Linked DNA regions of Homo sapiens. The protein of the gene in region 1 binds, or shares a complex with, the protein of each later gene. Each region holds a gene or a part of one and is shown in the gene's direction. Other genes may lie near its edges.

The links. The genes of interacting proteins can lie anywhere in the genome.
Region 2: the proteins of NUP42 (region 1) and GLE1 are in contact, whole or in part, in a crystal structure (PDB 6B4I), measured with the Homo sapiens proteins. Residues at the interface, in NP_001357375.1 of Homo sapiens: Asp185, Asn186, Val187, Leu188, Phe189, Gln202, Phe203, Gln204, Ser205, Lys206, Lys207, Phe208, Leu210, Gly211, Lys212, Ile213, Pro214, Leu215, Lys216, Pro217, Pro218, Leu222, Leu223, Asn224, Val225; in NP_001003722.1 of Homo sapiens: Ile385, Ile593 (codon at 2,268), Leu598 (codon at 2,283), Asn599 (codon at 2,286), Trp602 (codon at 2,295), Arg603 (codon at 2,298), Ala606 (codon at 2,307), Gln607 (codon at 2,310), Leu609 (codon at 2,316), Asn610 (codon at 2,319), Gln636, Tyr637, Gln638, Val639, Gln640, Lys643, Met644, Ile646, Leu647, Glu650, Asp651, Tyr652.

The regions. Positions count from the first base shown.
Region 1 is NC_000007.14:23,179,666-23,183,416, forward strand, and holds the start of NUP42 (nucleoporin NUP42), read left to right. Parts: upstream 1-2,382; 5' UTR 2,383-2,420; coding exon 2,421-2,541; intron 2,542-3,751.
Region 2 is NC_000009.12:128,535,719-128,539,469, forward strand, and holds part of GLE1 (mRNA export factor GLE1), read left to right. Parts: intron 1-636; coding exon 637-766; intron 767-1,108; exon of another isoform or gene 1,109-1,237; intron 1,238-2,267; coding exon 2,268-2,372; intron 2,373-3,751. UniProt on the Homo sapiens protein: Required for the export of mRNAs containing poly(A) tails from the nucleus into the cytoplasm. May be involved in the terminal step of the mRNA transport through the nuclear pore complex (NPC).

The DNA.
Region 1 (3,751 bases):
CCCTGGAGAAATAACTGATTTCAGGACTGGAGTAGAGAATGTAAAAATGAGCCTGGAACATCTCTGCACCAGAAAGTAAAAAAGTGCTCAAGTAATCATGGGGAATTTTTTTTTCTCCTTTTTCGAATGTGTAAAGGAGCTTAAAGGGGGTCCCATTGGCCAAATTGGAGATGATCTGAGCATCAAAATAAATAATGATAGTAATGGATTATAACCCATTGAATAACATTGGAAATCATGAGTCCATACTGATATAAATAAATAAGTGAATGAGCTAAAAGTTGGATGAACAATCAGATTTTTATATACTTTCAAAGTACCTCCCCACAAAATTCTTATTAATAACAAAAAGGAAAAGAATAACTTTATGGTAGAGCAGCTTGGCAGACACCACCTTAAGCAAGTAATCCATTGAGCATTACAGGTAACAGGACAAATTGAAATTGTGCACAACCTGCAATGTGAAAACCGCAGCATCACTTCTGTGATAATCCTGACAAAGATGCATAATCTGAATCTAATCAAGAGAAAACATCAAACAGACCTGCACTAAGGAACCTCTACAGTATAAGCAGCCTGTAGTCTTTAATAGTGTCAAGGTCATGAAAAGGAAAAACAAAAAATCTTCCAAATTGAAGGAGACACAAGAAATATGACTAAGCAACAATGATTCCGAACTGAACCCTTTTCCTCTAAAGGACAATATTGGGACATTTGGCAAAACATAAATGGAGTCTAAGGATTAGAGAGTAGTAGTGCATCAGTATCAATGTCCTAATTTTGTTGGCTGTGTTGTGGTTATGTAGAATGCCCTGGTTTGTTTGTAGAAAATATACAATAAGTATTTGGATCATGGGGCATTAGGTCTGCAACATAGTCTCAAATGGTTCAGGAAAAAAGTTCTTTGTACTGTTATTTGTAACTTTTCCATAAATTTGTTTCAAAATAAATGAATTGCATTGATTAAAGAAAATAAAAAACTAGTTTGGACAAGTAGTTCCCGTCCTGTAGATTCTGCTGTCTTCAAAATCCAAACAAATTACATGAGCAAGAATGATGGCTCACTCCCAGCTCAATAATCCTAAAACCACCAGCACAAACCTGTAATCCAACAAAGTCAGATCTATTGACTTATTGCAATCAAGAAGACTGCACACCAGAGGAGCTGTGGTGTGTCTCACCGTACAAAATAAAAGGTAGTTATTGTATGTTTTGGCGGGGAGAGTGAAGTTTAGGTGAAATTTAAATGAAATCTCAAAGCATAGCTGTGTGTAAAGGCATTAACATCAGGTCTGGACGAGAATTGAATGTAGGGCATGTTTCCTTGGAAACTGCAAAGTTAAGAAAATACAGAATGTTTTCAGAACCGTTTATCTGAAGCTCTACACCTGGATAGAAATTGAGGCTGCTTCTCTGCGTCAAAGAGACTTAGATCCTCCAGGCAAGGATGGGACTTTTCACTCGTTCTGATATAATTTCAAATAGCAACGTTTATGTGGACTTGAAAGAACAAGGTTTCGGCCAGACGCGGTGGCTCACACCTGTAATCGCAGCACTTTGGGAGGCGGACGCGGGCGGATCACGAGGTCAGAAAATAGAGACCATCCTGGCTAACACGGTGAAACCGTGTCTACTAAAAATACAAAAAAATTAGCCGGGCGTGGTGGCGGGCACCTGTAGTCCCAGCTACTCGGGAGGCTGAGGCACGAGAACGGCATGAACCTTGGAGGCAGAGCTTGCCTCCAAGCTCTGCCACTGTACTCCAGCCTGGGCGACAGAGCGAGACTCCGTCTCAAAAAAAAAAAAAAAAAAGAAGAAATAACAAGGTTTCTCAGTGTGTAGTAAGAATGTACTTAAGTGGTAATACTTTTCCGTTGCAGCATGTCCTAAAAGAAACATTGTTTCCTCTTAACGTCGTCTGGCTTTATTTGACTCTGTTATCCATCCAGATGAAAGGCTAGGCAGTTTGTTACTTTCTCAGCCCAAGCTAAGTTTTACCGTCTCAGCAAGAACGACTCAGTCTCTCAAATCATAGCTAATTCTCCTCTGAGGGCCTTGCTGAAGTTCTGCGTTTGCTTGCTCCGCTTTCCTCTCATTTTGGACCTCCAGCCTTCCTGTAGTCCGAGGCCCTGCACCGGGGTCAAACGCGCCTCCGGTCTTCACGTAACCGTTCAAGCATCCCTCCTTCCCAGGACACACTCAAAGCGTCAGAGCGGTCCGCTCTTCTCAAGTCCTATTGGCTCAAGTCCATGCGTCTCATGGCACTGCCGGGTGAGAGGCGGAAAAAGGCCTTCCCAGGCGCGAGAAGATGACGTCACAGTAGCCCGGCCGGGCGCCGAGGTTGCCTTAGGGCTCTCTGCCCAGTAACAGGCATCGAACGGTGCAGACTGAAGACGCCCTCCGTCAGCGACGCCGTCGCAATGGCCATTTGTCAATTCTTCCTTCAAGGCCGGTGCCGCTTTGGAGATCGGTGCTGGAACGAACATCCCGGTGCTAGGGGTGCAGGAGGAGGACGGCAGCAACCGCAGCAGCAGCCTTCAGGTGACTCTCCTCTGAATCCTCCGCGGTAACCGAGCCGGGAAGGGTCCGCCGGCGGGGACCGGGCGTCCCGCGTGTTTCCCGCTGCTGGTGACCCCAACGTGCCCGCGTCGCGGCCTTGCCGGCCCTACTGGGCCCTGCACAACGTTTTTAAACCGAGGGTTTTATCTACATATTATTCATGTGGTCCGTTTTTATTGAGCTTCTGAGGACCTGGGTTTGGGCCTGGATGCTTGTGCGAAACTGAGTTTTTAAATCGGAAGTACCTATCGAAACTACCTTGTAGGTAAATGCCGGAATTGAATATAATTTTTACTAAGTTGTTTTTTCGAGGGTGAGGCTAGCAGCTTGGGTCAGAATCAGGACTTCATTTTGGAGAAGTCGTGGACTTCTTTGAAAAAATCTAATAAAACCGGCCGGGCGGTGGCTCACGCCTGTAATCCCAGCACTTTGGGAGGCCGAGGCGGGCGGATCACGAGGTCAGGAGTTTGAGACCAGCCTGACCAACATAGTGAAACACCGTCTTTACTAAAAATACCAAAAAAAAAAAAAAAAAAAAAAATAGCCGGGCGTGGTGGCGCGCGCCTGTAATCCCAGCTACTCATGAGGCTGAGACAGGAGAATCGCTTGAACCCGGGAGGTGGAGGTTGCAGTGGGCCGAGATCGTGCCACTGCACTCCAGCCTGGGCGACAGAGCGAGACTATCAAAAAAAAAAAAAGAAAGAAAGAAAAGAAAAAAAGAAAATCTAATAAAACCTATAGAGCCATACCGCAAAAATGCACCTGCTCATAAATTTGGGGTGAAATTGGGAATGTGGGACGCCCAGTTAAGGGCTATCCGGGAGGTGAGGAAAGGAGATGCGGGGGCCACGTTGATCTAGTCCCTGGGCCTAGATCATTGTCAAAGCTTTTTATCTTCAAGGAAAGGAGAGATTAGACATGAAACCTTAGAACAACACAAGATTTTTAAAGATCGGGTTAATAATTCGGTGCTGTCTCCCTTCCTTCCCCTCCTTTAGGGCTATTCATCTGACCTTTATTTTTTTATTTTATTTTGAGACGGAGTCTTGCTCTCTCAGTCAGGCGGCTCACTGCGACCTCCGCCTCCCAGGCTCAAGCGATTCTTATGCCTCAGTCTCCCGAGTAGCTGGGATTACGGGTGCCCGCCACCATGCCCTTGATAATTTTTGTATTTTTAGTAGAGACAGGGTTT
Region 2 (3,751 bases), on another chromosome or scaffold:
GCAGAGGCAGAAGAATCGCTTGAACCCGAGAGGCGGAGATTGCCTGAGATCGTGCTATTGCTTTCTAGCCTGGGCGACAAGATGGAAATTCCATCTCAAAAAAAAAAATTAGCCGGCTATGGTGGCATGTGCCTGTGGTCCTAGCTACTCAGGAGGCTGAGGCGGGAGGATCACTTGAACCTGGGTGGTGAAGTTTGCAGTGAGCCTTGATCATACCACTGTACTCCAGCCTGGGTGACAGAGACTCTGTTTCCCAAAAAAAAGCAATTTATCTCTAATTTGTCACCCTTATTTTGGCCTTGTCCCAGTGAATTTTTTCTTATTTCTTTTTTTTGAGACACAGTCTTACTGTTACCCAGGCTGGAGTGCAGTGATGCAATCTTGACTCACTGCAACCTCCACCTCCCAGGTTCAAGCAATTCTCATGCCTCAGCCTCCCAATTAGCTGGGACAAACAGGCATGCACCACCATACCCAGTTAATTTTTGTATTTTTAGTAGAGATGGGGTTTCACCACATTGGCCAGGCTAGTCTTGAACTCCTGGCCTCAAGTGATCTGCCCACCTTGGCCTCCCAAAGTGCTGGGATTACAAGCGTGAGCCACCACACCCGGCCAAATTTTTTCTTCCCGTATAGGATGCTTGGTTACCAAGTAAAGGATTCCAAAGTGGAGCAGCAAGACAACTTTCTAAAACGCATGTCAGGGATGATCCGTCTCTACGCTGCTATCATCCAGCTCCGGTGGCCATATGGAAACCGACAGGAGGTAGGTAAAAGAGGCTTACTGTCAATAATGAGAGGTTAGACCACAGTCCATGTGTATTCCTCCCACAGGAAATGTTGGCCTTCTTTCAGAGAGCCAGTCTAGTTAAAGGATAAACTATATGGCAGTTTCATGGGTATTATGTAGAGGACTGAATGTTGATTATTAGGGAACTTTCTTGGATCACCTGGTACTTTAAAGAGCTGGTTTTGTAACAGAGTCTACCAGAGGAGAGTCTGTTATAAATCAGTCATTAAGGTTAGAAGATTTTCTTACAAGAGGAATGAGCAAGAAATTGTCATCTTAGAACTAGTTGAGACCTTAGAAGCCATCTAGATCACATACCTTACTTCACAGATGGACAGAACAAGCTCAGAAAGCTGCAGCTGGGGTTCAGGGCTTTGACTTGCCAGCCCAATTAATTTCTCAGGGAATACAGATTAGAAGGACAGAGAAATTAATAGTTACGGAGACCTAAAGAGAAAAAATAGAAGTTGATTAAATCCAAGTTTTTATTGTATGCCTGCTGTGTCCCAGGTTCTGTGCTAAAGGTACCAAGAATAATAAATAAAATGTCAATAAGGCTAATTGTTACCCTATGGAATGCCTGAAACTGAAGCTGACACATGCATATTGAAGGGAGCCTATAAAGAATGTGTGGGAACCAATGTATTGAAACATTAAAAAATAGAAGGCGAGGTAGCTTCAGGCCTGATATCCCAGCACTTTGGGAGGCTGAGGTGGGTGGATCACCTAAGGTCAGGAGTTCAAGACCAGCCTGGCCAACATGGTGAAACCCCGTCTCTACTAAAAATACAAAAATTAGCTGGGCATGGTGGTGGGCACCTGTAATTCCAGCTACTTGGGAGGCTGAGGCACGAGAATCGCTTTAACCCAGGAGGCAGAGGTGGCAATGAGCCGAGATCACGCCATTGCACTCCAGCCTGGGCAACAAGAGCAAAACTCTCCCTCAAAAAAAAAAAAAAAAAAAAAAAAAGAATGTGTGGGAACCAATGTACTGAAACATTTAAATACAGAAGGCTGGGCGAGGTAGATTCATGCCTGTAATCCCAGCCCTTTAGGAAGCCGAGACAGGTGGGTCATTTGACTCCAGGAGTTTGAGACCAGCCTGGGCAACAAGGTGAAACCATGTCTCTAAATAAAATACAAAAAAATTAGCTGAGCACGGTGGCATGTGCATGCCTGTAGTCCCAGCTACTTGGGAGACTGAAGTGGAAGAATCACTTGAGCCCAGGAGGTGAAGGCTGCAGTGATCCATGATCGCACTATAGCACTCCAACCTGGACAACAAAGTGAGACCCTGTCTCAAAAAAATAAAAGAAAAACAGAATTTGTTTAGTTTGTGTTATTTCTGCCCTGTGGCAGGTGCTAGGGCTGGATGATCTGGGGTTCATTTCCACTTGGTAATGGCTGGATGATACACTGGGAGTTTAGATTTCTAAACAAAATGAGATCAATGATAACCAAGCTTCTCTACTCCCAGATTCACCCTCATGGCTTAAATCATGGATGGCGCTGGTTGGCACAGATCTTAAACATGGAGCCCTTGTCAGATGTGACAGCCACCCTCCTCTTTGACTTCCTGGAGGTACGTAACTCAGTTATCACACAAGAGAAGGCCAGTGGTTGAGGTAGCCTTGATCCACTGGGTGACATGAATGGGGAAACAGCATAGCATTTGGGCCTGATAGTAAAACAGCATGAGGTTCCAGTGTCATACATTTTTCCCAAGCTGTAGACCAACCTTGCTTTCACTTTTACTCCATACTATATTTACTTGGCTTCTCTGGATTTTTTTCATTATAAAGAACAGAAAATTGTACATTCTAGCAAAAGTGAAAAGAGGAATTTGTTTTAGGGATATAGAAGGGACTCCCAGGCCGGGTGCGGTGGATCACACCTGTAATCCCAGCACTTTGGGAGGCCAAGGTGGGCGGATGACATGGGGTCAGGAGTTCGAGCCCAGCTGGTCAGTATATTGAAACCCTGTCTGTACTAAAAATACAAATAAAGGCCGGGCACGGTGGCTCACGCCTGTAATCCCAGCACTTTGGGAGGCCGAGGTGGTTGGATTACCTGAAGTCATGAGTTCAAGACGAGCCTGTCCAACATGGTGAAACCCCGTCTCTACTAAAAATAAAAAATCAGCCGGGTGTGATGGTGCACACCTGTCATCCCAGCTACCGAGGAGGCTGAGGCAGGAGAATCGCTTGAACAGGATCTCACTCTGTCAGCCAGGCTGGAGTGCATTAGTGTGATCATAGCTCACTGTAGCCTCAAACTCTTGGGCTCAAGCGATCCTCCCACCTAACCCTGCCAAAGTGTTGAGATTACAGGAGTGAGCCATTGCACTCAGCCAAGAAGACACTTCTTATAGAAGAAAGCCTTGGGGTACATGCCATAACAAATCTGGAACCATTTGATCTATAGTGCCAATAGTTCCTAGTTACCTTAATAGCTCCTGACGTCAGCCAGGTGCAGTGGCTGACAGCCTTTGGGAGGCCAAGGCAGGCGGATCACTTGAGCTCTGGAGTTCAAGACCAGCCAGGGCAATATGGTGAAACCCTATATCTACCAAAAAAATACAAAAATTAGTGGTGTGTGCCTGTGGTCCCAGTTACTGAGGAGGCTGAGGTTGGAGGATCACCTGAGCCCAGGGAGGTTGAGGCTACAGTGAGCTGTGATCATGCCAGTGTCCTCTAGCCTGGGCGACAGAGTGAGACCCTATTTCAAAAAAAAATAAAAAGCTCCTGAAGTCACCATACATGAACAATGATCCTGTATCATTTGAGAACACAAGTGGTATTCTGTATACTCTCCTTACTAAGTTTGGGAGGTATACCATACCTTTAGGAAGGCGTCCATTCATTAGAGGAAAAGAAGAGTAGTTCATTAAGACCTGATTGGTTAAATGGAGATATTGCCATATAAAGAGAAATGCTTTAGAAGAAAGTTGGGTGTTTCCAT